Linked DNA regions of Homo sapiens: all the other regions are linked to region 3. Evidence: fine-mapped expression QTL. A gene starts in region 3. Each other region holds a variant in brackets. All regions are shown on one strand. Distances are between the middles of the regions. Region 1 overlaps SCUBE1 (signal peptide, CUB domain and EGF like domain containing 1). Region 2 overlaps SCUBE1 (signal peptide, CUB domain and EGF like domain containing 1). Region 3 holds the start of TTLL12 (tubulin tyrosine ligase like 12). Region 4 overlaps TSPO (translocator protein).

Region 1 (7,677 bases), 31 kb before region 3:
GGCAGTCCTGGATCTATAGTATTTCAAAGCCCCTTCCCTTCCTTGCTGTCCTATCTCTCTTCTGTTCTACGCTCTTTCCTAAAGCACAATCATGGCTTGCTGATGGGGAGGAGGTAGGAGGATCCCTGTCCTCCTTCTCAGAAGACCTCTGGCGGGTGGCCCCTGGGCTTGAGCTTGACCCCACCATCCATGTGTTCACCTGTTTTAGGCCTTGCAGGGAGAGAAATGGGGCAGGAGAGGGTCCCCCACCCCAGGAGAGCTGTCGGGGCACAGGGACTCAGATCAAGCCCCACCCCCAGCTCCAGATGGATTTGTCCCCTGGCAGCCCCCGTCCCCCACCACCTCCTTGCCTGCAGGAGAGGCCACCACCTGGGGGAATTTTGGCTTTCCCCAGATGCCCCCACCACCCCCATCAAACAGAAGGCCCGCTTCAAGATCCGAGATGCCAAGTGCCACCTCCGGCCCCACAGCCAGGCACGAGCAAAGGAGACCGCCAGGCAGCCGCTGCTGGGTGAGTGGGACGCCCTGCTCCTAACCCACACCAACGGGGCTGTAGGAGAGTCCTCATGCCTGGGAGCTGGGGCCCCAGGGTCCAGCGAGTCTGGTTTCCAAGGGTGGAGGTCTCTCTCACCTGGCAGCTGTTTATTGAATGAGAGTTTCCAAGGACATTGCAGGCTGGGGAAACAGCGGAGGGCAAGCTTGGTACGAGGGGCCCCGGAGGAAGGCACCAGCTCTGTCCCCGTGAAGATTCCTTCTCAAACCTAACAGAGCTCTCAGCACGCAGCAGGCTCTGCCCAGAGCCGAGTCTGCACTGGCCAAACCCTCAGCAGGCCCAGAGCTGGGGGCACAGCCTCATTCATGAATATGTATGAGATGCCTCCACCTGCAGCAGCGTGATGGACCGGGCGTGAGACCTGGCTCAGCCACCAGCCCCTCCTGAGACCCCGAGCCAGCCCTGACCTTCTCTAGCCTGAGTTTTTCCGTCTGCACCACGGACCAGGAAGTCCTTGCCAATGGCACTCTGTATGCAGGGCTTGGTAGGACCTTGCTCCCTGCCCCATGCCGCCTTTGCCACAGTGGTCCTTTCCTCGTCCAGACCACTGCCATGTGACTTTCGTGACCCTCAAGTGTGACTCCTCCAAGAAGAGGCGCCGTGGCCGCAAGTCCCCATCCAAGGAGGTGTCCCACATCACAGCAGAGTTTGAGATCGAGACAAAGATGGAAGAGGCCTCAGGTAGGTGAGGGGTTCTCCTGGGGGCTTCTGCAGGCCTGAAGGAGGACGACAGGCTGGTGGCGCTGCCGGGGGCCTGCCAGGCATGAAGCTAGGCTCCCACCAGAGCACAGCTGTGGCTGGGATGGGAGCCCAGCTTCTGGAGACAGAGGCAGGCCCACAAGCAAAGGGAGCTGGCAGGGGTCAACGCTTGCAGCCCAGGATAGAAGAGGCAGCCCAGGGCAATGAGACAGAAGAGCCGAGGTGACCTCAAAAGTCACATGACCCTTATCTGCCCCTCCACACTCCTGCTGGGACCCGGGAGGACAAATAGGTGCAGCCCCCCTAGAATGGTTGAGCCAAGGATTGTCTTTCCTGGTTCCTGAAGGAGGTTCTAATGCTGGCTCGGGTGTCACAGCAGCACTTTGCTCTTGGCTATATGTGAGTGTCAACCTGTGAGTCGTTGATGTTGAAGAGATGGGATCTGTCAGCAGATAAGTGTGGTATGGGCCTGGCTGTGGGCTTGGGCGCTGTGGAAAGAAAAGTCCCCACCCAGGTAACACTCTCAGCCAGAGAGGCAGACGCACGTGCAAACCACCCATTGCCAGGTGGGACTCTCGGTGGTGGGGGCACAAGAACAAACAATGCATAGAACTGAGGTCTGCCCCCCACGGGAGGGCTTAGGAAATGTCTTAGTCTGGCTGGGCACACTGGCTCACGCCTGTAATCCCAGCAGTCTGGGAGGGCCAAAGTGGGTGGATCACTTGAGTTCAGGAGTTCAAGACCAGCCTGGCCAACATGGTGAAACCCTGTCTCTACTAAAAATACAAAAATTAGCCAGGTGTGGTGGCAGGCACCTGTAATCCCAGCTACTCAGGAGGCTGAGGCAGGAGAATCGCTTGAACCTGGGAGGCAGAGATTGCAGTGAGCTGAGATCGCGCCACTGTGCTCCAGCCTGGCGACGAGTGAGACTCTATCTCAAAAAAAAAAAAAGGAAATGTTTTAGTCTATTTGCGTTGCTAAAAGGAACACCTGAGGCTGCATAATTTATCAGGAAAAGAGCTTATTGGCTCTCGGCTCTGCAGGCTGTCCGAGAACACGGCAGCAGCATCTGCCTGGCGAGGCCTTAGGCTGCTTCTGCTCACGGAGGAAGGTGAAGAGCAGCTGGCATCACATAGCAAGAGTAAGGGAGCAAGAGAGAGGGGAGGGGGTGCCTATGTCTTCACCAGTCACATCTCGTGGCGACTAGTAGAGCCAGCAAGAACTGACTACCACACCAGGCCATTCATGAGGGACCTACCCCATGACCCAGACACCTCCCACCAGGCCCCACCCCCAGCATTAGGGATCAGATTTCAACATGAGGTTTGGAAGAGACAAATATTGAAACCATATCAGGAAGCTTTCCCAGAAGAGGTGCCATTTGAATGAGAGCTTAGAATCAAAGCTCACTGGGTGGAAAAGGTGGCAAGGAATGGCATTCAGGCAGAGGGAATAGAATAGGCAAAGGCACAGAGGTCAGAGAGAGGAGGAGGTGTCCAGGAAGCAGTAAGTAGGGCCAGGTGGCTAGACATTGGAATCCACAGGGAGTGTCAGAGTGGAGGGGATGAGGCTGGCAAGGCCATACGGGGCTGGACCTTGAAGGGCCTTGGATTCAAGGCCAGAGAGCTGGACACTATCCTGGGGACAGTGGCAGTCCCCAAGAGTCTTTGAGTGACAGAAAGGCGTTCTTGCCCCGTGAGTCGTACCCTGGGGGGTGATGTGGTGCAGTGGCAGCTGCCTGGATTGCACTCAGATCTGCTGCGTGGCCGTGGGCAGGCCCTGCCTCCCAGGTCCGCAGCCTCCTCATCTGTCAGATGGGCATGACAGTGGCCCCTTGCCCCAGGACTGTTGTGAGAATGTGCTGAGGAGGTCCGAGCCCAGTGCAGGGCCTGGCACGGGGGAGCCCTCAGCTAAGAAGGCAGCGGCTAGCAAGGTTGCCAGCGATTCATGTTCTGTCTCTCCTGCCCCTGCAGACACATGCGAAGCGGACTGCTTGCGGAAGCGAGCAGAACAGAGCCTGCAGGCCGCCATCAAGACCCTGCGCAAGTCCATCGGCCGGCAGCAGTTCTATGTCCAGGTCTCAGGCACTGAGTACGAGGTAGCCCAGAGGCCAGCCAAGGCGCTGGAGGGGCAGGGGGCATGTGGCGCAGGCCAGGTGCTACAGGACAGCAAATGCGGTGAGTCCTTGCCCATGGCCACTCAGATGCTGACTCTGTCCTTCCTTGCACATGAGCCGGGGTAAACAGTGGTGGGCACGCAGGTGAGACAGACACCTGGGGAGGGGACAGAGAGATGCAGAGGCCTGCCGGGGAGAAGGACTGCAGCCCTCATGGTCATCACTGTCATTTGAAGAGCACTCCTCTGTGCTGGGCCTCGGGCATGTGATCACAGTCTGAGGAGGGACAAGGAGTGGACAGGACAGCAAGGCCACAGTCGAGGGGCGCGAGGGGGCACGGGAACCAGAACAGGCCCTCTCTAGTCTGGGATGTGGTTCAGGGAAGCTTCCTGGAGGAGAAGTCACGTTAGCTAAGACCTCAGGGCTCCAGGAGTTGGGGAGCCTGAGTCAGGGTCGGGGGACAGAGCAGGGATGTCGTGAGGCCTAGGGCCGCCCAGGAGGGCAGCGTCGTGCTGCAGGGAAGCAGGTGAGGCCGGCCCCCAGCGGGCGGGTGTGCGCTGGAGGGGAGAGCCTGGACGCAGGACAGGCAGAACCAGCACACGAGACAGTCCTAGTTCTAGTGGAGCTCACATGCCCGTGCGGAAGATGGACAGTGGGCCAGTGAACATGCCCACAGGTACAGTGAGGCCAGAGGTGATGGGGCCTGGCAGACACCACTCTTGAGTTGGATGGGGAGCCATAGGAATGCTTAGAGCAAGGACGCAGGCTCATGCGCGCTCTTACGGGAAGGCTGAGTAGCGGGGGCGGAGCAAGGACGGGGAGGAGCATGAGATGGAGGGGGCTCCTAGGGAGAGACAGACTTCAAGGACGACTCCAAGGGTTTGGCCAATTGGGCAGAGGTGGTATCGCTTCCTGACGCCGGCCAAATCCCCAAGGATTTGAGGAAGAGTGGGCTGGGGGGAGGGAAACTTGATGAAGAGTGGGCTGCGGGGATGGGGTGCGCAGGCTGGACATGTTCAGT[C/T]TGAGACGCTCACAAGTCATCCACATGGAGATGTTGGATGGGCAGTTGCAGCCACAAGTCCGAAGCCTCAAACAATAGGGTTGGCCAGGGGTGTAAACTGGGAAGCCGGAGGAGAAGAAATGATACCTGGCGGGGGAGGAGGGAAGCTGTTGGAGAAGAGGTGACACCTGGCGGATGGGGGGTGGGGGTTGGGGGAAGCTGTTGGTAAAGAGGTGACACCTGGCAGGGTGGGGAAGCTGTTGGTAAAGAGGTGACACCTGGCGGGGTGGGGAAGCTGTTGGTAAAGAGGTGACACCTGGCGGGGTGGGGGGAAGCTGTTAGAGAAGAGGTGACGGCAGTGTTGGGGGAAGCTGTTGGAAAAGAGGTGACACCTGGCAGTGGGGGTGGGAGGGAAGCTGTTGGTAAAGAGATGACACCTGGCGGGGGGTGGGTGGGGGGAAGTTGTTGATAAAGAGGTGACACCTGGAGAGGGCGGGGAAGCTGTTGGTAAAGAGATGACACCTGGCAGGGGAAGGGCCAGGTTGGGGAAGCTGGGACTCTGGCTCAGACAGTGGAGGGGGACAGCCGTACTGACAAGGGGGGACAAAGGGAGCTTGGTGATGTCATCTTCTACTTTCTTTTTTTGTTTGTTTGTTTTTATTTTTGAGACAGAGTCTCGCTCTGTAGCCAGGCTGCAGTGCAATGGTGTAATCTCAGCTCACCGCAACTCTGCCTCCCAGGTTCAACCTATTCTACTGCCTCAGCCTCCCAAGTAGCTAGGACTACAGGTGCGCGCCACCGTGTCCGGCTAATTTTTGTATTTTTAGTAGAGACAGGGTTTCACTATGTTGGCCAGGCTGGTCTCAAACTCCTGACCTCATGATCTGCCCACCTCGGCCTCCCAAAGTGCTGGGATTATGGGTGTGAGCCACTGCGCCCAGCCTCTTCTACTTTCAATAACTTATTTTGGGCCGGGCATGGTAGCTCACGCCTGTAATCCCAGCACTTTGGGAGGCCGAGACAGGTGGATCACCTGAGGTCAGGAGTTTGAGACCAGCCTGGCCAACATGGTGAAACCCCGTCTCTACTAAAAATACAAAAATTAGCTGGGTGTGGTGGCGAGCGCCTGCAATCCTAGCTACTGGGGAGGCTGAGACAGGAGAGTCACTTGAACCTGGGAGGCAGAGGTTGCAGTGAGCTGAGATCACACCACTGCACTCCAGCCTGGGTGACAGAGCGAGACTCCATCCCAAAATAAAAATAAATAACTTATTTTGAAATTATTTCAAAGTTTCAGAAACATTGTCAAGCAGAACAAAAAACTTCCATATTTTCTTCATCCAAATTCCCCAATTGTGCACATTTGACCACATCTGCCCCGTCTCCCACACGTGTGCATGTGTGTGAGTGTGCATGCATGTGTGAGTGTGTAGTCTTCACCATCCAACCCACACACCCACCCCATTCAGCTCCAGCAATCCTTCCAACAATGTCCCTTTTGTTTTTCTGGTCCCAGCTCCCATCCAGAAAGACATGTCACCCTCCACTGTGTCTTCAGGCTCCTTCAGTCTGGAGCCGCTTCTCCCCTTTCCCTGCCTCTCCTGCCCTTGTCCCAAACTCACCTCCTCTAGGCTAACGCTCAGAGCTCCCTCTGGTTTTTCCTGGGGACCTGACTCAGGGCCCAGGGTCCAGCAGGAACCTCAGCTTCGAGGCCTAATCCTGGGTGCCCCATCAGCAGGCACAGGATACCCCCAGCCCGCCACTGGCTTCACTTTCACTCGCCATTTTCTCTCTGTGATTGATGAGTGTTTTCTGAGTTTGGACCAATATTCTCCTCCTCATCAAACTTCTGCACAGCTCCCGCCATGTCAGCCACCTCTACCATTTGTTCCATGTTCCACGCTCACTAGTCACATTCTCCTGTAGGAAAGTGGGTGGCCATGGCCGTTTACCTCTGGGTCTGTATCCCTATAGACTCAGATTCCCCTTACTCATTGCGTGGTGATCCATTCCTGATGTTATTTAGTTCGGCGCTCACTGTGTCCCCAGGGTAGCCAGGGATGCCCCACCAAGCTGGCTCTTGGGTCTGTCTGACCTGCCACACACATGCTGCGAGCCTCCCCTTCAGATCCAACTGACACTCTCCATCCCCTGGCATCAGCCAAATCCCCAAGGACCCCTGGTTCCTTTGAGAGGAGGATGATGGGTAGAAACCAAAATCTGGGATATTCATTGCTCCTGGAGTACCACTGCCTCTAGGCCCTCTCATCGGACAGAACTGGAAAGCATAGATGTGTATACACGTGCACACACAGGCATGGGAATCTATGGGTGGGGGGGTTCTAAAACCATGAATTCATGCCAGTGCCTCCCGTTCCACACCTCAGGGTCTTTTCTAACCTTCACTCCCCATTTCCGCATTTGTAAGCATCTTCTCCAGCACTGAGAAACTCGGCTCCCTTTCTCCTGAATTTACTGATTTACTCAGTTTCCTTACTTACTCATCAGTCGACGTATTTGTTCAGTGTAGCCAACCAGACTGCGCTGTCTTCAGCCCATCATCTCCTCGCTACGCCCCTCCCACCTCGCCCGCCAGGCCCTCCTGCCCTTGCCTATTTGAGCCCCAGTCCCTCCCCACTGCCCCTAACTCCTCCACTCAGGAAGGACAGGGGAGCTTCGGGGTGAAATGACTGTAGCATATCCAAGTGGCGACATCCAGGAGGCAGTTTGCTAAAGCTGGAGGGCAGGGTGTGGAGCAGACAGAGGACAGACGTATGGGGGAGGTGGGGACCACAGGCTTCTATAAGCGGGTGGAGATGGAGGGGTCCACAGAGGACTCTGAGGTGCAGCAGCCAGAGGGGCCAGGCTTCATGGCCCTCACAGATGGCTGCCTCCTGGGTCTTGCCCCAGGCTCTTCTGGGATAGGTCAGGGGCCCCTCTGTGTCCTTGGGGCCCCAGGGGACAAGGACTGTGTCTATCAGGAGAGCCTGGGCTTGAGCACACAGGAGACACCCCTGGCCTCCCCACCTCTGCCTCCAGCAGCCTCTCCGCTTTGCCTCTGCAGTTGCCTGTGGGCCTGGCACCCACTTCGGTGGTGAGCTCGGCCAGTGTGTGTCATGTATGCCAGGAACATACCAGGACATGGAAGGCCAGCTCAGTTGCACACCGTGCCCCAGCAGCGACGGGCTTGGTCTGCCTGGTGCCCGCAACGTGTCGGAATGTGGAGGCAAGTGCGGGCCTAGAAGGAGAGGTGGGGGTGGGGGGTGGGCGGGGGCTCCTCCTGTCTCTGATGAGGCCCTCCTGTCGAAG
Region 2 (7,677 bases), 23 kb before region 3:
ATTGTGCCCTTTGGAAAGGACTTCACAGTGTGCAACTTACGGTTTCTAAGGGAGGTACATAAGTGCCTTATGGTGGACTAGACAGCTTACATTTTACGGAACATTCCATTACAACTGGAACACTTTGCAGAGAGTATCTTATACTTGAGCAAGAACTTTGCTCCACACAAAGAACTTTATTATGTGCCCCACAGACGGTTTAGAAAGCCCTTTTTCAATTTACCAAATGCAGTTAGGTTTGCAAAGAGCTTTTGCATTTACCTCCCTCTCCCCACTTAACTCCATCTGTGAAGCTAGCTCAGTCTCCCCATGAGCCTTTCTTCCCAGGCCACTGTGAGTTTCACCCAAGAGAATCCGCGGGGAAGGTTCTCAGCACCCTGAGAAGCACAGTGCCTGTGAGGGTGGGGGAGTGGGGTCCCAGGATACTGGAGACCTCCAGCTTTCTCCCGGTGATGGAAGGGCTCAGAGCCCAGCCCTGAGTCCGTCCAGGCTGCCGGCTGCTCTCTGGCCCACGCCCACTCCAGGAGTGTGGTCTCCACCCCTGGGGGAGTGGCCACTGGTAGGAGATTCCGTGTTTGGGTAGAAGCTGAGAATCCCAGGGTCTGGGCTGAGAGGGTGCTAAACCCGCCTCTCACTCAATGCCAGAATACTCTCTGCATCCTGAGTCTGCTGGAACGCAAGAACATTCTTTACTCGGAGCTGAAATTGGCTTTCCTGTGGTCCCCTCCCTTTGTCCCAGGGGTGCCCTTGAGTACCTCAGAAACCCTCCCCAGACCCGCCTCCCTCTGCTCTGGCCTGGCCCTGCTGGTAGACCAGGCAGCGTCACCCTGAAGCTGAGCAGGTGCTCCTTCTGCGGAGACCCCGGTGCAGCCTACCCCCCGGGGACAGCCCCTCTGAGACACGTGACCTGCCCCTCCACCTGTGGGTCCCCTTCCCAGCTCAGCAGCAAGGCCTCTTGCTCTTCAACCCCCAGGCCTTCTTGCTGGTGGGAGAAGGAGAGCCAGGCTTGACCAAGGCCGCACATGAACCGCTGGCATCATCCGGACCAGGGCCCAGCTTCCTGCACCCCGGCTGCTGCGTTTTCCCCACCCCGTCCCCACCCCAGGCCTCGGGTGCCCAGTACCTTTTCCAGGGCCGGGCAAGGGCCAAGAGCGGGGCCTGAGACCACCCACAGCCTCGGCCCTGCGGTGCCCTCCTGCCCGCCTGAGCCATGACCTCTGACTTTCAGGCCAGTGTTCTCCAGGCTTCTTCTCGGCCGATGGCTTCAAGCCCTGCCAGGCCTGCCCCGTGGGCACGTACCAGCCTGAGCCCGGGCGCACCGGCTGCTTCCCCTGTGGAGGGGGTTTGCTCACCAAACACGAAGGCACCACCTCCTTCCAGGACTGCGAGGCTAAAGGTGAGCATGCCCTCCCCACCACGCCCGCCCACCCCGAGAGGCAGGGCTGCACTGCTCCGAGAGGCTTCCCCGAACCCCTCTCATCTCCTCCATGTGGCGAACCTCCCAGCTCAGAGGAGGAGCCTGGAGCTGTCAGGCGTGGGCGTGGGTGACCCACTGTGCCCCGCATTAGGACAGGGACACCTTATAGCTGAGAGCTTTCTGAGCTCCAGGGGGAACAGCAGCTCCTCGGAGCACTGGGGAGGGCTCTGGGGACAGGAGGCCTTGAGCAGCATCTAGAAGGGAGGTTGGGAGGGTGAGGAGGGGGCAGGAGTGTGGGGGCAGGAGTGTGGGGGCAGGAGCGGGATCAGGGCATCACCTCAACTGCTGTCTGTTCAGGGCATCTGGTCCCACCCAGGTCTACATCCCGTCTTCCCTCACTCACCAACTCCCCCAAATCCTCCCCATTCTCAGCTGCTGACCCTGCTTCCCCACCGTGCTCCCTCTCAGTGTCTGTCTGTCTGTCCAGGTGGCCTGGCTCTCAGCCCCCTGGAGCCAGCCACATCACCAGATACTCCCCTGCACATACAAACTGTTCTGAATTTGCCCATTTAAAAAAAGAAGCCAGGTGCGGTGGCACACACCTATAATCCCAGCACTTTGGGAGGCCAAAGGGGGTGGATCACCTGAGGTCAGAAGTTTGAGGCCAGCCCGGCTAGCATGGCAAAACCCTGTCTCTACTTAAAAAAAATACAAAAATAATTAGCCGGGTGTGGTGATGTGCACCTGTAATCCCAGCTACTCGGGAGACTGGGAGGGGAGGATCGCTTGAACCCAGGAGGTGGAGGTTGCAGTGAGCCGAGATGGCACCATTGCACTCCAGCCTGGGTGACGGAGCGAGCTCCATCTCAAAAAAAAAAAAAAAGAATTGCCCATCTCTAGCCCCCCGCCCCGGCACCCCTCAGACTCCGGCCGCCTGTCTCTCCTGCCCCAGCAACCTTGTAGAAAGAGGGTTTGGCCTAGCTGGCTCCACTTCCCCTCCTCCCTGTCTCCCCCGCACGCCTCCGGCCACATCATCGCCCCCGCTCTCCCTGAAAATGGCTCCCATCAAGGTGGCCTGTGTGGTCCCTGTTTTGCTGGAGCCAACATCACATCAATCTGCCATGTGACCCCCACGCCAAGGGCTCTTCCTGGCCATGGCGGAGTGAGGGTGGTGGGAGGTCATGGGGCGGTGGGGAGGAGCCTTGAACTCTGTGCCAAAACAGACCTCGAGGGCATGAGAGGTCCTGGGGACAGCACCCCAGTGCTGCCCTTTCCCTGCACCCCTCCACACCCACCACACTGCCTTGTGTCCCCCGGCAGTGCACTGCTCCCCCGGCCACCACTACAACACCACCACCCACCGCTGCATCCGCTGCCCCGTCGGCACCTACCAGCCCGAGTTTGGCCAGAACCACTGCATCACCTGTCCGGGCAACACCAGCACAGACTTCGATGGCTCCACCAACGTCACACACTGCAAAAGTGGGTGCTGCTGCTCTGCCGTGGGAAGCTGGGAACACGGGAGGGGCTGGGCAGGTTGTGGGGGCGGGAGGAGACCTGATCTCACACGAGCTCCACGAGGACACTGGACTCCTCCCGCTCCGTCCCGTCTGCTCTCGGGTGCATTGCATCCATCTGGAGGCCTGTGGCACCAAAGGGGCAGCCCTGGCTTGGCCCACTCTACGGAGCCCACAGTGGTGGCCATCGTTCATCAGTTCCCACTGCTCACCCAACACAGCCCAAGCCTCTGCCCTGGGCCAGGCCCTGCTCTAGTTTCTGGGTCTGCTGGGGGGGCTGACAGCCTACAGGGGCACTGACAGGGCCTCTAGAGAGAGCAGGGCTCCAGGCCCTCTCAGTGCCCCTGACAAGGCCCAGCCACAGAGAAATAGGGTGGGCCTGCAGGCATGGCAGCCCAGTAAGAAGAAGCCCCCAGGCTGGGCCTCAGGGAACCACAGGCCTGAACAGGGGACCTGCCCTCCTGCTCTGGGGGCAGCCCAGGCAGGGTCCCCAAGGAGGATGGGCTCAGGGTCCGAGGGCTAGTGTGGGGGGGGACAAGAGCACCTTCCAGCCCTGCCCTAGGCCTCCCAGGTGGTTAGAGGCCTGGCCGGCCAGGGCCCCTGCCCAGCAGAGCCTGATGAGGCCCTCGGGCCACTGTGCCCACAGACCAGCACTGCGGCGGCGAGCTTGGTGACTACACCGGCTACATCGAGTCCCCCAACTACCCTGGCGACTACCCAGCCAACGCTGAATGCGTCTGGCACATCGCGCCTCCCCCAAAGCGCAGGATCCTCATCGTGGTCCCTGAGATCTTCCTGCCCATCGAGGATGAGTGCGGCGATGTTCTGGTCATGAGGAAGAGTGGTATGTTGGGGGCCGAGGGGACCAGAGGCAGCCTCAGCTGCGTGTGCACCCCCGTCTCGCTGCGGTTCTGCCAGGCGGGATCGCTGCCTTCACAGGGCAGAGAGGAGGGCCCTGGGGCTCAGAGGACCAGCCCCTCAGAGTCCACCTGGGAGGCAGGGTTGAAACCCACTTGGGTCTAAGAGCTGGCTTTACAGAGTTCTGTGGAAAGATCTGGAGAGCTTAGGGTATTCCGAGAGTGGATGCTGGGACATGGTCAGGCCTGGTCTCAACTCCGGCCAC[G/A]AGCCGGGCCCTCATCCCAGTGGCGGGACCAGCCGCAGGGCCCCTTGCCACCACTTTCTGCCGCACCGCTCAGGGCGAGACCTCAGGCTCCAGCTCCATGGGTCTCCTCCCGCCCGCTGAGGTTTGGGGGACCACACGGCCGTCCCATGCACCACACAAGATAACAGCTCAGAGAGCCCTCCCCACCCCTCTGTGAGCCCTGGACTCCTGGCTCATCCGCCCCCGTCAGGGCTCCTCTTGAGACTTTAGGGAGTGAAGGATGGAATGGCATGAGAGAGGACTGGACTCAGCAGTGGGTGTGACCGCTGTGTGCCCAGCTGGCCACAGCAGCAGGAATGCCTGGGAGGCCCCTGAGCCACCCGAGCACCAGCCAAATACCTGCAGCGCACCTGTCCAGGGCACCTCGCTGCTGTCGGGCTGTGGGTGCCCATGTGAGCGAGCTCCATGTCTGAGTGTTAGGGAAGGAAGAGCAGGAACCCAGACACCCACAGACGCTGGCCAGAGAACATCTCTGGGTACCCAGTGACCACAGAGACCGGCCAGATGAGGGGGTGGGGAGGGGCCTGAGGTCTGCGCCAGGGCTGCTCCTCCAGAGTTGCGTTATCCTGGGCAGGAGTTGCTCAGCATAGCTAATGAGTAGACGGATGTCAGCAAGGCTGACGCAGCTGAGCAGCCAAAAGCCGCAGTGTGCGGATGGGCAAGGGACCGGCCTGGGACCACATTCCCCACCCGTTCCCCTCACCCGTTCCCCTGCCCCCAGCATCCCCTCCTTCTGTCCCCCACCACAAGCCTGAGCTGAAGTGAAGCCCAGCCTGTCCCCCATGAAGGGCTCCTCGGGAAGGCCCCCAGGGAGCCGTGAGGCCTTGCCAAGGAGCCCTTAAGCGGGGAGAGGCTGGGCAGGGCTGGGGTGCTCCCACTGTCACCGTGTCTGAGAAAAGGATGGTTTGCAGAGTTTGGGAAGATTCACCTGCCGGTCACATGCTGTACCCACGCTGCCGCACTCGGCTCCTGATTTCCTCCTCGGGAGATCAGGGCTCAGTGGGCCTTGCTGGTGTATTTGCTCTCGGGGAGAAGGGACTTCCCAAGTCTGTGCCTCTGGTCCCAGCAGTCAGTGCCAGTTCATCTCCCACGTCCTCCCCCAGCTTCCACTCCCACCCTGGCCTTGCACCAAGTGCAGGCCTGAGCCCTGTCACCGAGGAGCAGTTAGCTGGAGGGAGATGGAGACCCACTGACAGAGGGGCCTGTGATAAGGGGTTCACCAGAGCAGAGCAAGATCTTGGGAGGGGATGGGGGGAGAGTCAGGGAGGCTTCCTGGAAGAGGGGACAGAGATGGGTCTCAGAAGGACAAGTAAGAACCCGGGTTGAGGGTAGGGAAGGGCCTCAGAGGCAGAGGGAGCAAGCACAAAGACTAAGCCGTTGTGTTTGGGGGACCAGGCGTTCGGTGCAGGTGCTGGGTGGTGGACTGGATGGGAGGCGAGTGGCCTAGGGCAGGAGGAGCTGCCTACCTGTGGCAGCTCAGCAATGATGCTTCACCCGCAGCCTCTCCCACGTCCATCACCACCTATGAGACCTGCCAGACCTACGAGAGGCCCATCGCCTTCACCTCCCGCTCCCGCAAGCTCTGGATCCAGTTCAAATCCAATGAAGGCAACAGCGGCAAAGGCTTCCAAGTGCCCTATGTCACCTACGATGGTAAGATCCACTGTCTTCACGGCCCACTGTGCACGGCTCAGGCGGGGCCCTGGAGACACAGAGATGAGTCGCACGTCCCCGCCCTCAGGGAGCTGCGACCTGGCAGGTACAGACCTGGAAGCAGAACGAACACTGTCAGGGGCCAGAGCCAGACAGGCTGAGGGTGGTACCGGGTGGTACAGGCAAGACAGCGGTTAGTGGCCTCTGCAGGCTTCAGCTGAGGTGCTGCCCAAGCAGGGTTTTGAGGGCTAAATAGGGGGTTCTTAGTGAAACCCCGAGGAGGACAATACAGGTGCAGGGAGCCCCAGGTTCAAAGGCACAGAGGCAGAGCTGCGGCCAGCCATAGCCCAGAGCCCGTGGCTGGAGCACAGGAGGGAGGGCAGAGGCTGGAGGTGAAAGGGGAGCACGTGGGCCTCAAGCCCCTCGCCTTCCTCTCCCCCTGCTGACCCGCTGCCCAGAGGACTACCAGCAACTCATAGAGGACATCGTGCGCGATGGGCGCCTGTACGCCTCGGAGAACCACCAGGAAATTTTGAAAGTGAGTGAGTTTATTGGAAGGGAATCCACGTAACCCTGGGATGGGGCCTGTGATGAGCCAGGACCGCCCCTGCCCCAGCCCTGGCCCCTGGAGGAGCAAGGGAGGGTGGGTGGTGATGGGAGAGGAGCAGGAGGCTTGGGGGTCCCAGAGCCCTAATGGTGGGGACTGGGTCCTGCACATCTGTTCCTCCAGACCAGGAGGCCTGAGGGAAGCTGTTTGGTGAGGACTTGGGGACCAGGACCTGGTGATGTGGCCTCAGGCACATTCCTCACCAGCTCACAGCCTCACTCTCCTCATCTGTAGAATGAGGGTATTCTGGGGGATGTCTCAGAATCAGTGGGATCTACCCAGTGCCATTGTCACTTGGAGCCCCCCTGCCGCTGGGACTAGGCTCCCTCCTCTTCCTGCTTCCAGCCTGGAGAGGCAGGGCCGCCTGGTGTGTCACATGGTGGGTACTGGCCAGAGGCCTGGGGACCCAGGACTCACCCAGCTCAGCCCTGGGCAGCAGCACTGTCAGCCCAGGAGCCCCGGGGTGTGGAGGACAAGGGCAGGGCTGGAACGCTCCCGCTGTCACTTCTTCTGAGAAAAGGATGGTTTGCAGAGTTCGGGAAGATTCACTTGAGTCTCCCCATAGTCTGCCAGTCACGTGCTGCCGCCCTCGGCTCCTGATTTCCTCCTCAAGCTGCTTAGGCAGAAACCAGGGATGCGTCCTGGGCTCTCTCCCCGCAATCTCTGTCCCCCCAGCTCCGCCCTGGGAGCATCGCTCCCAAACTGGAAGCATCCTGACACTGCTCTGGGGACACAAACCTCAGCCGGAGGGCCATCCTCCTCCACAGCAGCTCCCAGCTCCTCACACGCACCAGAGCCTCTCGGCCCCTTCTTTCCCCCACCTCTTTCCCCCCATCCTTCCGCCCTCAGCTGGGACATCCTGTCGTACTCTGGGCGGCCTGCCCGGACCCCCTGACCTGGGCACACCCTTTGCAGCCCCTTAGGTCCCGCGTGCCCCTCCTTCCTGGCGCCCACCAGCACTCACTTTAGGTTTGTTCTGTGAATATTTAGTCCCTGCCCCCACAGCACAGAGGAGGGCAGGAGCATCTGTCTCCAGGGTGTGGGTTCAGGGCACGCGTGTGTGTGTGCGGGGGGTGGGGGAGTGTGCTGTGTGGTGTGTTTGTGGAGGCATGTGTGGTGAGTTTGGAGGTGTTCAGTGTGTGTGGTGACTGTGGTGTGTGTGTAGGGGTGTGTGTTGAGTGGGTGTGTATAGTGTGTATGTAGGGGTATGTAGGGGTGTGTGTGCTGGGTGTGTAGGGGTGTGTGTTGAGTGGGTGTGTGTGGGGTGTAGTGAGTGGGGGTGTGGTGGGTGTGTGGTGTGTTTGGGGGGGTGTGTGGTGAA
Region 3 (6,073 bases):
CCTCTGCCACCAGGGATCAAGCAATTCTCCTGCCTCAGCCTTCCAAGTAGCTGGGGTTACAGGCACCGCACCAAGGCTAATTTTTGTAGTTTTAGCAGAGACGGGGGTTTCACCATCTTGGCCAGGCTGGTCTTGAACTCCTGACCTAGTGATCTACCCACCTCGGCCTCCCAAAGTGCTGAGATTACAGGGGTGAGCAACCACGCCTGGTGACCCAATTCTTATGATCAACTTTCACAAAGTCATTGTATTGGGTTTAGGCTCCATGTTGTATGAAAAACCCATTTTGTATGAGTACCCTTGGCAAAGCTCTCAGAACAAAAAGCTATCAGGGACCAAAGGTCAACCTGGGCTTGGATTTTCAGGATGGAAGGGCCTTTTTTATTTTTAGACGGAGTTTCCCCCAGGCTGGAGTGAGTTGATGCGATCTTGGCTCACTGCAACCTCCATACCCCCACCCCTGGGTTCAAGCAATTCTCCTGCCTCAGCCTCCTGAGTAGCTGGGATTGTAGGTGCCCACCACCATGCTCGGCTAAATTTTGTATTTTTAGTAGAGATGGGGTTTCACCATGTTGGTCAACCTGGTTTCGAACTCCTGATCTCAGGTGATCCACCCGCCTTGGCCTCCCAAAGTGCTAGGATTACAGGCATGAGCCACTGTGCCCGGCTATGGAAGGGACTTTTAAACTCTTTTTTTTTTCCCTGTTTCTCTCTCTCCTTTTTTTCAATTGTCTGGAGGGGGAGGGGGTTGGTGGCAGTAATGGGAGCAGAGCAGTAATTTTATGTTGATTAAATACACATTCTTCAGTGCCTCTTTAGAAGACAACATTTCAGCTGAGAAGAATGAGTCAGGATTTACAAAGTGAGCATGGGGAGAAAGGCTTTCTGGCAGAAAACAGAGCACAATGCTTTCCAGGAGCTGAAGACAACCAGAGATACAGGGACTCACAGTGTGAGGGGAAGAGTGTAATGAAAAGAGGCTGGAAAAGTTGGCAGTGCCAGCTCACACAGAGCCTTGGAGCTCAGGTGAAGAGTTGAACCACAAAGGGTTCCAAGTAGGGATCTGATACAACTGGGTTTACATTTGGGGAGGAGCATGTGAAAGAGGACTGCCCTGTCAGAGCCTCACATTCTCCTGGTCAAAGGGGCTGGGTCAGGAATGTTCACATAATCTGACCAGTACCTGACACAACTGAGACTCAGTCTGTCTTCCCCAGCGGGACCGATGGAAGGGTTGTGGAAGCGGGAGGTGCACTAGGTGTGTACCACTATACCTGGCTAATTAAAAATTTCTTTTTGTAGGGTCGAGGTCTTGCTTTGTTGCCCAGCCTGGTCTCAAACTCCTTATTTCAAGTGATCCTCCTGTCTTGGCCTCCCAAAGTGCTGGAATTACAGGTGTGAGCCAGCATGCCCCATCCTAGCATTGTGATGCTGTTTTACTATATTATTTATTTTGAGATGGAGTCTCGCTATGTTGACCAGGTTGGAGTGCAATGGTACAATCTCAGCCTTGGCTTCCACAACAAAAACCGAGGAATCAGGGTTTTCCTCTGGCCATGGTGAAACCCTGTCTCTACTGAATACAAAAAATTAGCCAGGCGTGGTGGCACACACCTGTAGCCCCAGCTACTTGGGAGGCTGAGGCAGGAGAATCACTTGAACCCGGGAGGCAGAGGTTGCAGTGAACCGAGACTGCACCATTGCACTCCAGCCTGGGCAACAAGAGCAAAACTCCATCCCAAAATAAATAAATAAATAAAATGTTTTTCTCTGCAGCCCTCACCAACTTGAGTTTGGAAATTTTTGCCTTTGCAGACCCACCTGCTTCCTACAATGGAATTGAACAAGTCCGTGAATTGGTGCATTTTATTCAAACTCAGTTCAAAAATGTTATCAAAATAGCATCTGAAGCTCCAAAAAATTTTCAGCCTTTGTTTTTTAGCAAATTACAATTCTTACAAAATTGCAAAAAGGAAGACATTGAAATGTATCCCTATGGAGCAATAAAACTCAATGAGAGTTCAAAAGAGAATGTCTTTTGAAATTCTATAACTGAACTGTTTTCTTTTAAAGAGGGAGTCTGGCTATGTTGCCGAGGCTGGACTTGAATTCTTGGGCTCAAGCTATCCTCCCGCCTCAGCCTCCCGAGTAACTGGGACTACAGACGCGGCCACCACGCCCAGCTCAACTGCACTTCGAAACATCCCGACATGTAGGAGTAAATTCCTCTGACGGGTACACTTGGTCTTAATTGGATCAACTGACATTCCGAATCCAAATATAAGTAATTGAGAAGGGCCACGATTTTGCAGCATCCAAATCTGGTGAAACGCTCACAAGAATCGAGAGCTCCCAAGGCAGGGGGCCTGCGAGCTCTGTGTGCCCGGTGCAGGCACAGAAGCGCCGCCTCACCGGGTTCGGGCCCCAGGACACCTTCCGGGCCGTCGGTGGGGCCTTTTCCGGTCCTGACAGCGCCCTATACGTAGGCACCCCGCCCTCCCGGCATTCCCCGGGGTCGCCGCGCGCTGAGCGAGAAAAGCTCAGCCACCATCAGGTGCGCGTGCGCACACGGCGGCAGCCAAACCACAGGCGCGGTCGCAGACGCGCGCCCCCTCCTGGCAAGCTCGCGCGCTCTCGCACGCACCCCGCCGATGCGCAGGGCCTGCCCGGGGGCCGCGGCAAACCGGGCTGGAGGCGGACTGGGGGCGGGGCGGGACGGGGTGAGGGGGCGAGAAGAGGGCGGGGCAGGGGAGGGGTCGGGGGGGCCGGGAGGAGGACGGGGCGGTGGGGAGGGGGGCAGGGGGCGGGGGCAGGGGGCGCGGCAGGGGCGGGGGGCTGGGGGGAGGACGGGGCGGTGGGCGGGGGGCTGGGAGGAGGACGGGGCGGGGGTGCTGGGAGGCGGGCGGGGCGGGGGGCGGAGGCGGGGGGGGCTGGGAGGAGGGCGGGGCGGGGGGGGGCTGGGAGGAGGGCGGGGCGGGGGGGGGCTGGGAGGAGGGCGGGGCGGGGGGGGGGGCGCTGGGAGGAGGGCGGGGCGGGGCAGGGGGCGGAGGCGGGAGGGCAGGGCCGACGGACGGCGGGCGGCGGCGGCGGTGGCGGCGCTGGAGTCGGCGCGGGTGCTGGCGCCATGGAGGCCGAGCGGGGTCCCGAGCGCCGGCCTGCGGAGCGTAGCAGCCCGGGCCAGACGCCGGAGGAGGGCGCGCAGGCCTTGGCCGAGTTCGCGGCGCTGCACGGCCCGGCGCTGCGCGCTTCGGGGGTCCCCGAACGTTACTGGGGCCGCCTCCTGCACAAGCTGGAGCACGAGGTGCGGGGAAGGGCGGCGGGCACGTGCGGCGGCCGGGGTGGGAGCGCGGCGGGAGCCCGCGGCGCGGGACAGGGAAGAGCGCTCCCGGGCGGCGGGAGCCGCGGTGAGCCACCCAGAGCGCGTCCTGGGCAGCTCTGGAGCGGCGTGGAGTTGGGGGCCGAAGAGTGACAGCAGGAGACCGGGGTACCTGCGGCCCTGATCTGCCCGGGCCCGAGACCGGCTGAGGGCTGCGTTGGGAACTTTAGGTCCTCCACACACCCGAGCCTGACACAGCCCTGCGAGGAGTGAAACTCATCACCCCCACTTCACAGATGAGAACACTGCGGCTCCGAGAGTCCCTTCAGAGGGATTCTTTCAGCCGCTGCCTCACAGGGACAACGGGAACCCCGTGAATTTGTGTAGCTGTAACTGTTGGGTTCACAGAATTCGGTGTTTTTTCATTTGATTTGAGCCTCGGGGTCCCCTCATCTTGCAGGTTAAAGAAAACAGGCTGTGAGAGGTGGAGGAGAAATCTAAAGAAAAATGGAAAAGATTGAGAAGCCTCTAGGTTCTCTCCCTTTTTGTGAGGACGGCCCATCCGGCTCACCTGCCTCCTCCACTCCAAAGCGTTCCCCACTGTCCTGGCTGGGGATGAGCCCTGGATTTTTATTGCGTGCCCAGAGGCTGAGGCCACAGCACCTTCCCGGGCTGGCGGGGGGGGGGGTGTTTTCTTTAGCTGGGACCCGACATCTCCTCCAGGTGCTGTCTCCCGGACGGAGATGAGCCTAGTGGCGCAGGTGATGAAGTGGAAACCCCAGAGCCAAGAACAGGGACCCGGGCCGGGAACTAGGAGTCCCTGAGCCTGGCTGCTGGCCAGACTCTACGGTCTCTGAGCCAGTTTTTCTCTGTGTAATCCTGATTGGACTAGGAACCTTCCTGCTGGAAACGTGCAGTGAGTGGCACCTCCTTATGCTACAGTGTAACAGAGAGTTTCCTCTGCCCCTCACTTCTGCCATATGCTTTCCGAGGACCACTCTGGTCCCAGGCCTGTGCTGGGTGGAAGGGACCTTGGTTTGTTCATGAGGACAAAAAGGTTCCCATGGGCTGCGTGGAAGGAGCACAGTGGGAATGACCAGCTCCTGCCCAGCCAGCCTCCACGGCAGCACGCCCTCCCTCGGGCGGTCACTCGCCCGTCTGAGACCTGTTCTCCATCTGGGAAGGGGATGGTGAGACACCATCTGGCTCCCACAGTATTGGAAGGATGGGAGGTGGCATGAGAAATATGCCTGGCACACAGAGGGTGGTCGCCACCGTGCCACGTCCCCTGCCCAGGCCGCCTTGCCTGCTGTTGCCCTACTAAGGGGCAGCCAGTGTTTTTCCGTGACCCTTCCCCAGCCGTTAAGGACAGAGCTGAATCACTGCTTTACCATTCACAAACTTGCAGCTCTTCCTGAGTGAAGCCTCCTGCTGCTACTGGCCCAGGTGTGGAGGAGGCCGCCAGCAGCAGCAGCACCTGCCAGCGCTGTGGGCCCTTACACCCCTGGCCATCAGCCCTCCTGCCTCACCTTAGGCCGGCTGCCCTGGAAAGGATGGGGAAACTTGAAGATACATACATATATATATATATATATATATATATATATATATATATATATATATATATATAATTTTTTTCTTTTTTTAATTGAGACGGAGTCTTGCTCTGTCACACAGGCTGGAGTGCAGTGGCATGATCTCGGCTCACTGCAAGCTCTGCCTCCCGGGTTCAAATGATTCTCCTGCCTCAGCCTCCCGAGTAGCTGGGATTACAGACGTGCGCCACCACACCCAGCTAATTTTTGTATTTTTAGTAGAGATGGGGCTTCACCATGTTGGTCAGGCTGATCTCGAATTCCTGACCTCGTGATCCGCCCGCTTTGGCCTCCCGAAGTGTTGGGATTACAGACGTGAGCCGCCACGGCCGGCCGAAGAGATGTTTTTAAAATGTCTACTCTTCTGTCTGCACAAGCTTCCCAGTTGCAAAACCACTCCCCTTATCTCCTGGGGAGCTCTTCCAGTCCTGCCATGAAGGGGTTGTGGTGAAGGAGAAACCCAGCACCCCATTTCACAGCTGGGTTGAATCCAGGCCAGGCTTGAGACAGGCTCTCTGACCCTCAGCCTCACGCTGTCCCCTAGGGATTTGGAGTACTGGGGCGGAAGCCCGAGGTCTGGATTCCAGCCCTCTGAGCCTCCCCCCAGCCCTAAACTGGAGAAGGCAGTAGCCTCCCCAGACCCACCTTGAGGGCTAAAGGAGAACTGGATGGCTCTTGTCTCAGGTGCCTTGTCTCTCATGTGACCCCTGGTTTGCTCCACCCTGGGCTATCTGCCTCCAGGCCTTCGCTCTTACTCTTCCCTCTGCGTGGAGTTCCTTTCCATCCTCACCCCGTAGCCTCATGTTTAAATCTTCCCCTTCTTCAAAGCTGGCCTCTGGTTATGGTTCCTCATCCATAAAGTCTTCCCAGGCCCTCCAGGCCCCAGAGCAATTTACCTGATACTCTTAGGTGGCCTAGACCTTACTCAGCCTGAGCTTCCTGAGCGAGACCTTGAGTGATTCATCCTCACGCCACCAAAGGGCAAGTCCTGCCCAGTGCACAAAAGCTGCCTGCACCTGAGTACTTAGCTAGTTTCCAACTGCCGTTTTTAATCGAGTAGTGGGAAATACGTTTTAGGGAGGAACTGGCCTTTGTTGAGCCTCCACTGTGCGCCAGGACTTTATGCACGCTGTTTGATTTCATTCCATCAGTGTCCTGAAAG
Region 4 (6,094 bases), 24 kb after region 3:
AAACATTAGCCGGGTATGGTGGTGCGCGCCTGTAGTCCCAGCTACTCAGGAGGCTGAGACAGGAGAAACGCTTGAACCCAGGAGGCGGGGGTTGCAGTGAGCCAAGATCACACCACTGCACTCCAGCCTGACGACAGAGTGAGACTCCGTCTCAAAAAAAAAAAAAAAAAAAAAGCGGAAGGCAGAGCGGCCCTGAGGCAGGCTGCCTGTGGACTGTGCTGCTTCTCTCCTTAGCCTCCCTTCCAGGGCAGGTCTCAGGACTGATGCTCACACGGACTCTGTCCAGAAGCTTAACAGCTGGTGCTCTCACTAGTTCCCAGCTCACTTAAAACCTGGTGCCCAGGAGATAGTCCTGCCCAGGGAGCAGCTGGGACAGCCCCCAGAATCAAGACCACATGGTCCAGGCTTTCCATGATTGTAGATGGCTATTCTCTGTCCCCACATGTCCTTGCACCTCTGCTCACTGCAAATGGACACCCCCAAGGAAGGCCAAGAGCCAGGGACTTCATGAGCCGGAAGACCAGCCGGCTCCAGGTGCTGAGGCAGTTGCCGGGAGATGTTTATCCCACTAAATACTTCTTCCTGGTACTCATTTGCACCCTCATCACTGTGTTAAGAAGCCATCCAAAGCCGGAATTGACCAGGCACAGTGGCTCACGCCTGTAATCCCAGCACTGTGGGAGGCTGAGGCGAGCGGATCACTTGAGGTCAGGAGTTGGAGACCAGGCTGCCCAATGTGTTGAAATCCCATCCTACTAAAAATACAAAAATTAGCCAGGCATGGTGGTACACACCTGTAATCCCAGCTACTCTGGAAGCTGAGGCAGGAGAATCACTTGAACCTGGGAGGCAGAGGTTGCAGTGAGCCAAGATGGCGTCACTGCACTCCAGCCTGGGCGATAGAGCAAGACTGTCTCAAAAAAAAATAATAAATAAACCCACTCAGAAAGCATCAAAACCTTAAGTTCCCAGTGGATGACAGCAGCTTAGAAAAGGAGAGAATGCTGTCTGTTACGAGCATTTCCTGGGGAAACGTCGCCAGGCTGTTAAAAGGAAGCCGGCAGACGAAATGCTAAATGCGTTCTCCTCTCGCCCATTTTTCCAAGGCGTTTTGTGGCAGTGCGTGTTTTGTGGCCAGCAGGAGCTATGTGGGACATTTGTTACAGATGAACAACCCCACGAGTTGCGGAGATGGCAGAAGTCTGGGTTGCACTTTCTCCAATCCCTAAGTGTCTGGCACGGACTCAGGTGTCCCTTGACACTTCAAAGGATACCCCTGTGCCCTGCGGGGACGGTGCATGCTCACCGGCATGCTGGAGCAGGAGACAGCCTGGCCTGTAAGTTTCTTGCTAGCAAGGACCTCTCTGCCATCCGCTGCTTGGACTGTCTGCACAGAGCTCTGGAGGAATTCAACTCTGGGCGTCTTGGAGAACTTCAGAAATAAGTTAATAAAAAGGATACACAGAGGCTCCCCAGCTGGCTCCTCTGCACCGGTGAGCATCGGGAAAGCCATGAGGGCTGAGGGCTCAGCTGAGTGCCCGTGGCCGCAGAGTTTTTGGATCCTGCAGAGCGTGATCTGTTGGGCATCAAACTCTGCCAGAGTCAAGGGAGCGGGAGGCTGAGGGTCAGGGTGGAGTAGCGCAGCCCCTGGGCGGGAGCCATCCCTTCTGTCAGAAGAATGCAGTCGACTGTCTACCCATTTCCCTGAGCTGTTCGTTCTTTCGTGTGTGTGTGTGTGTGTGTGTGTGTGTGTGTGTGTGTTGTGCGTGCACCAGAGTGGATGGTATAGACAAGAGTCTCCCTATGTTGCCCAGGCTGGTCTCAAACACCTGGCCTCAAGCAATCCTCCCGCCTCAGCCTCCCAAAGTGCTGGGATTACAGGTGTGAGCCACTGTGTCCAAGCTTTTGTGAACGTCAGGTTGTGTCTGAGCGTACAGGTCGGGAGAGGACACAGGAGCCGGGGGAGAAAAGAGGAAGCAGCAGCCGCGGGCTGTTGAGTGATGACGAGCTGTCTATGAACATTTTGCCAATTTGAATGAACTTAGCTGCCAAAAACAAAAAACAAAAAGCCCGGCAGGTCAGGCCTGGCCGAGGGGAGGGAGCCGCGGGCTGTGTTGCTGAGTGCTGCATGGGTGTGGTGACCGAGAGCAAGACGGAGGAGTGCTGCGTATGGGACTCGGCTCATTTACTCCAAACAGCTGCCTGGAGAGGCCATGGGTCACCCAGTTCGAAGCCGGGGTGAGGGAGTGAGTGGCTGTGACACCTCCAATCCTGGCCGCTCTGGGCCAGCAAGGAGGCCCTGTCTGCTGGAGTCGGGACCTAACCTTTCCTGCCTCTGACTCCCCCTCGAGCCAACTGGGTGTTTGCGGGGCTATCCCTGGTGCAGTGAGGCTGCCATAAGCCTGGGCCCCCGGGGGACAGGGCAGTCAGCACCCCCAACTCTGTCCTGGGTAAAAGCAGCTGAGGGCCACGCACTGGGCAGGACCAGGCGTCGAACAGTGGTTGTGGGCCCGGCCATTAAAGGGCCCGGGCTGAGCATCCCGGAAGCCATGGGAAGCGGACAGGACCCCCTCCCTCTGCTGAAGCCCACGGCCCCAGCTGGGTCTGCGCCAGTGTGGGCCCCAGGGTGGCACCCAGGGCTGCTCTGTTCATCTCCTGCAGGGCTTCGGGAGCGTCCCAGGAAGCGTGGGGCAGCCCCAGCTGGATCCAGCCCTGTCTGGAGAAGGCAGCCCAGGCAGATCCTGCAGAGACGAGCTCCAGTGCAGCCCCAGCTCCCCCTCTTCCCTGTGGCCAGGGGTCCCACCCAAGCAAAAAGGCCATGGTAAAGGAAGTCAAAAACTTTATTCAGCTTATAAAATTCCATGTTCCAAGAACATGCTCTAAGCATGCAGAAAGCACAGGACACTGCTCCCGGGTGGGGGCTCAGGTGGGGCCACCTCTGAAGCTCTGCTGACCCCTGGGCCAAGGCCCTGACAGACTAGCAGGCCCAGTGGTCATGAAAGCGTGACGGCCACCACATCACAAGCGTGATGGCACCTGCTGGTGCAGCTGCAGTCCCTGGTGGGCCGGGCACTCACTCTGGCAGCCGCCGTCCCCCA[C/T]GCCAGCCATGGTTGTCCCGCCATACGCAGTAGTTGAGTGTGGTCGTGAAGGCCAGCCAGGCCAGGTAGGGGTAGAGCAGGCGGGCGGCCAGCGGGCTCACCTGGTACCAGGCCACGGTAGTGGCTGCCGCCGCCCCACTGACCAGCAGGAGATCCACCAAGGCCTGCAGAGATTGGGGGACGGAGGATGGGGAGGCCTGAGGCACCGCGTTCACCCAAGTGCCTGTCCCACTGCCCAACTCCCACTGGATTTGGGAGTCAGGAGCCTCACTCACCCCCACTCCACCCTTGAGTGACCTGGCCAAGCCCCTCCCCCATCGCAGCCTCAGTTTCCTCATCTGTAAAATGGGAACAGTCATGCCACCTGACCCATGCCTTGTGTGGGGTGCACATGACATGCCTGAAGTGAACTCGGTTTGTTCAAGGGTGCGGTGGTGGCTTAGGAGGTCTTGCACGTCCCTTCCCCTCTCTGAGCTTAGAGCCTCCACTGAGAGCGATGCTGACCTCCCAGCATTACTACAAGGCCCAAACAAAAACTTGCTATTTGTCAGGTGCAGTGGCTCACGCCTGTAATCCCAGCACTTTGGGAGGCTGAGACGGGTGGATCACCTGAGGTCAGGAGTTCAAGACCAACCTGACCAATATGGTAAAACCCCGTCTCTACTAAAAATAAAAAAATTAGCCAGGCGTGGTAGCACGTGCCTGTAGTCCCAGCTACTCAGGAGGCTGAGGCAGGAGAATTGCTTGAACCTGGGAGACGGAGGTTGCAGTGAGCTGAGATCACGCCACTGCACTCCAGCCTGGGCAACAGAGCGAGACTCCGTCTCAAAAAAAAAAAAATACAGAAAATTAGCTGGACATGGTGCTGCATGCCTGTAATCCCAGCTACTCGGGAGGCTGAGACAGGAGAATCACTTGAACCTGGGAGGTGGAGTCTGCAGTGAGCCGAGATCATGCCACTGCACTCCAGCCTGGGCAACAGAGTAAGACTCTGTCTCAAAAAAAAAAGGCTGCCGGGCACAGTGACGTGACCTGGAGTCCCAGCTACTCAAGAGGTAAAGGCGGGAGAATCAATCGTTTGAGCCCAGGAAGTCGAGTCTGCCCTGGGCAACACAGCGAGTCTTCATCTCTTAAAAAAGTTTAAAACTTTAAAAAAGAAGCAGTCAGCCGGGCGCGGTGGCTTACACCTGTAATCCCAGCACTTTGAGAGGCCAAGGCGGGTAGATCACCTGAGGTCAGGAGTTCAAGACCAGCCTGGCCAACATAGTGAAACCCCATCTCTACTAAAAAAATACAAATACAAATACAAAAATTAGCCAGGAGTGGTGGTGCACACCTGTAGTCCCAGCTACTCGGGAGGCTGAGGCAAGGGAATCACTTGAACCCAGGAGGTGGAGGTTGCAGTGGGCCGAGATCTCACCACTGCACTCCAGCCTGGGTGAGAGAGTGAGACTCTGTCTCAAAAAAAAAAAAGAAGAAGCTGTTATGTAGAGGGGCCAGTGACCCTGCCCACACAGTACCAGGCTTCGTGTGGGTTTTCCTACACAGTGGCCCCCAAACCCACCCCTGCAACCCCTTCTGCTTTAATAGCTTCCCTCACCGGAGGAGTCAGTAGAGGGGAGGCTCCAGGGTGTGGGCTGCTTACAGCTAGAGAGACATGGCCTTTTGTCTCCCCTGGCCCCGCCTATAGACACTGACCCAGTGTCATATGTGATGCCCCACGTCCTCCAAGGGTCGGATCCAGGGATCAGGGACACATGCTGTGGCCACACTTACCCAGCCCATTTGTCGGGCACCAAAGAAGATGGGGGGCCATGCCCAGTTCAGGGCCAGCTGCCCAGTGTAGAGGCCCAGGGGAACCACAGCCTTCTCTGTGAAGCCTCCCAGCTCTTTCCAGACCAGGTAGGAGCCGTACCTGAAACAGAGGCCGCAGTTCAGAGCACCATTAGGAACAAGGCCAGGAGCGTTGCCCACCTCCGAGTGGCACAGTGATGGTTCATACGTGACCTGACACTGACTGCTGTGTGATCTCAGGGAAGTTGCTTGACCTGTCTGGGCCTTCATTTTTCATAGGGTTGCTGTAGAGATTCTAGTTAGCACATTGGCAGTGCTTCATGCGATACCCAGCATTTAGGACACTCAGTAAATACCTGCCATTATTATCACTGTCACTGCTATGAAAGGGAAGCACATGGTGTGAATAGGTAGAGAGGAGGCTCTTAACCTAGCCAGGGCACTGCATAGAGGATGGGACATTTGGCCTGGGCCTTAAATGATGAATAGGAGTTTTCCAGGGGAGGAAACAGGACATGCAAAGGCTTTGAGGCAGATGTGAGACCCTGAGTCAGTCTGTGACTGCAGGGTGAGGTCCAGGGGGAGGCCTGATCATGGGAGCTGTTAACACAGGGCAACGATAACACCACCAGTAACAGCAGCCGATGCCCTCCAGCACTCACAGGAGCCAGGCCCTACCACTTCCCAAGCATTCACTCATTTCAGTCTCATGATGATGCCATAAGGCAGGCAGTATCAGCACCCCCTTTACAGTGAGGAGACTGAGGCGGTGAAGTGACTGAGATCTCTTGGCAGGCCATCAGTGGATAAAGTCTGGTCAGCCAGGGCCAGAGCCCCGGCTGTCACCTACTAATGAGGGGTTCGCCTTATCCAGAGCCACAGGGAGCCCCAAAATTTCCCCCGAAGAGAGGCTGGGACTGGGTGGTGTAGGAAGGCCAAGCAGGGTGGGGACACTGGAGCCAGGGAAGTGCAGGACCCTGGCTGGGCAGGGCCTGGGCCAGGAGGGGTGAGGCCCACGTGACACCCAAGTTCCAGGGCCTTATTCCCATCAGAGCCGGGCACCTGGCCTGGCCTCTGCTATCCGCCCCCTAGAGTGCCTGGCACCTGCGTCCCCACCCTGCACTGCGCTGGCACAGAACCAGGATGCAGGGAACATTTCAGAAGGCAGTCAATTCCCTGCCTCCTGGGTGTGGTCCCCGCTA

Evidence for each region. PIP is the estimated chance that this variant, and not a neighbour inherited with it, causes the effect.
Region 1: its variant is the best candidate, but not a certain one, in a credible set for the expression of TTLL12 in whole blood (TOPMed, PIP 0.76).
Region 2: its variant is the best candidate, but not a certain one, in a credible set for the expression of TTLL12 in sun-exposed skin (GTEx, PIP 0.83).
Region 4: its variant is the best candidate, but not a certain one, in a credible set for the expression of TTLL12 in whole blood (INTERVAL, PIP 0.86).

The regions. Positions count from the first base shown.
Region 1 is chr22:43,214,007-43,221,683 of GRCh38, reverse strand. SCUBE1 (signal peptide, CUB domain and EGF like domain containing 1) reads left to right here. Exons shown (of 22, transcript NM_173050.5): 13 at 395-511; 14 at 1,097-1,234; 15 at 3,226-3,429; 16 at 7,433-7,594. Among named protein-coding and RNA genes, the nearest start is that of SCUBE1-AS2, 5.2 kb to the right of the region's middle. RefSeq lists an enhancer at 936-1,437. The variant C/T (reference allele first, on the strand shown) is at 4,390.
Region 2 is chr22:43,206,144-43,213,820 of GRCh38, reverse strand. SCUBE1 (signal peptide, CUB domain and EGF like domain containing 1) reads left to right here. Exons shown (of 22, transcript NM_173050.5): 17 at 1,229-1,396; 18 at 2,738-2,899; 19 at 3,581-3,778; 20 at 5,597-5,749; 21 at 6,208-6,287. SCUBE1-AS2 (SCUBE1 antisense RNA 2) reads right to left here and starts at 1,147. Exons shown (of 2, transcript NR_134632.1): 1 at 1,124-1,147; 2 at 160-666. The variant G/A (reference allele first, on the strand shown) is at 4,058.
Region 3 is chr22:43,184,121-43,190,193 of GRCh38, reverse strand. TTLL12 (tubulin tyrosine ligase like 12) reads left to right here and starts at 3,060. Exons shown (of 14, transcript NM_015140.4): 1 at 3,060-3,301. The coding sequence starts at 3,125. RefSeq lists silencers at 2,647-2,766, 3,015-3,174, 3,215-3,434 and enhancers at 3,815-3,874, 3,885-3,964, 3,905-4,409.
Region 4 is chr22:43,159,971-43,166,064 of GRCh38, reverse strand. It overlaps TSPO (translocator protein), which reads right to left. Exons shown (of 4, transcript NM_000714.6): 3 at 4,875-5,013; 4 at 2,823-3,262. The coding sequence ends at 3,074. Among named protein-coding and RNA genes, the nearest start is that of TSPO, 11 kb to the right of the region's middle. RefSeq lists enhancers at 2,013-2,515, 2,516-3,019. The variant C/T (reference allele first, on the strand shown) is at 3,099.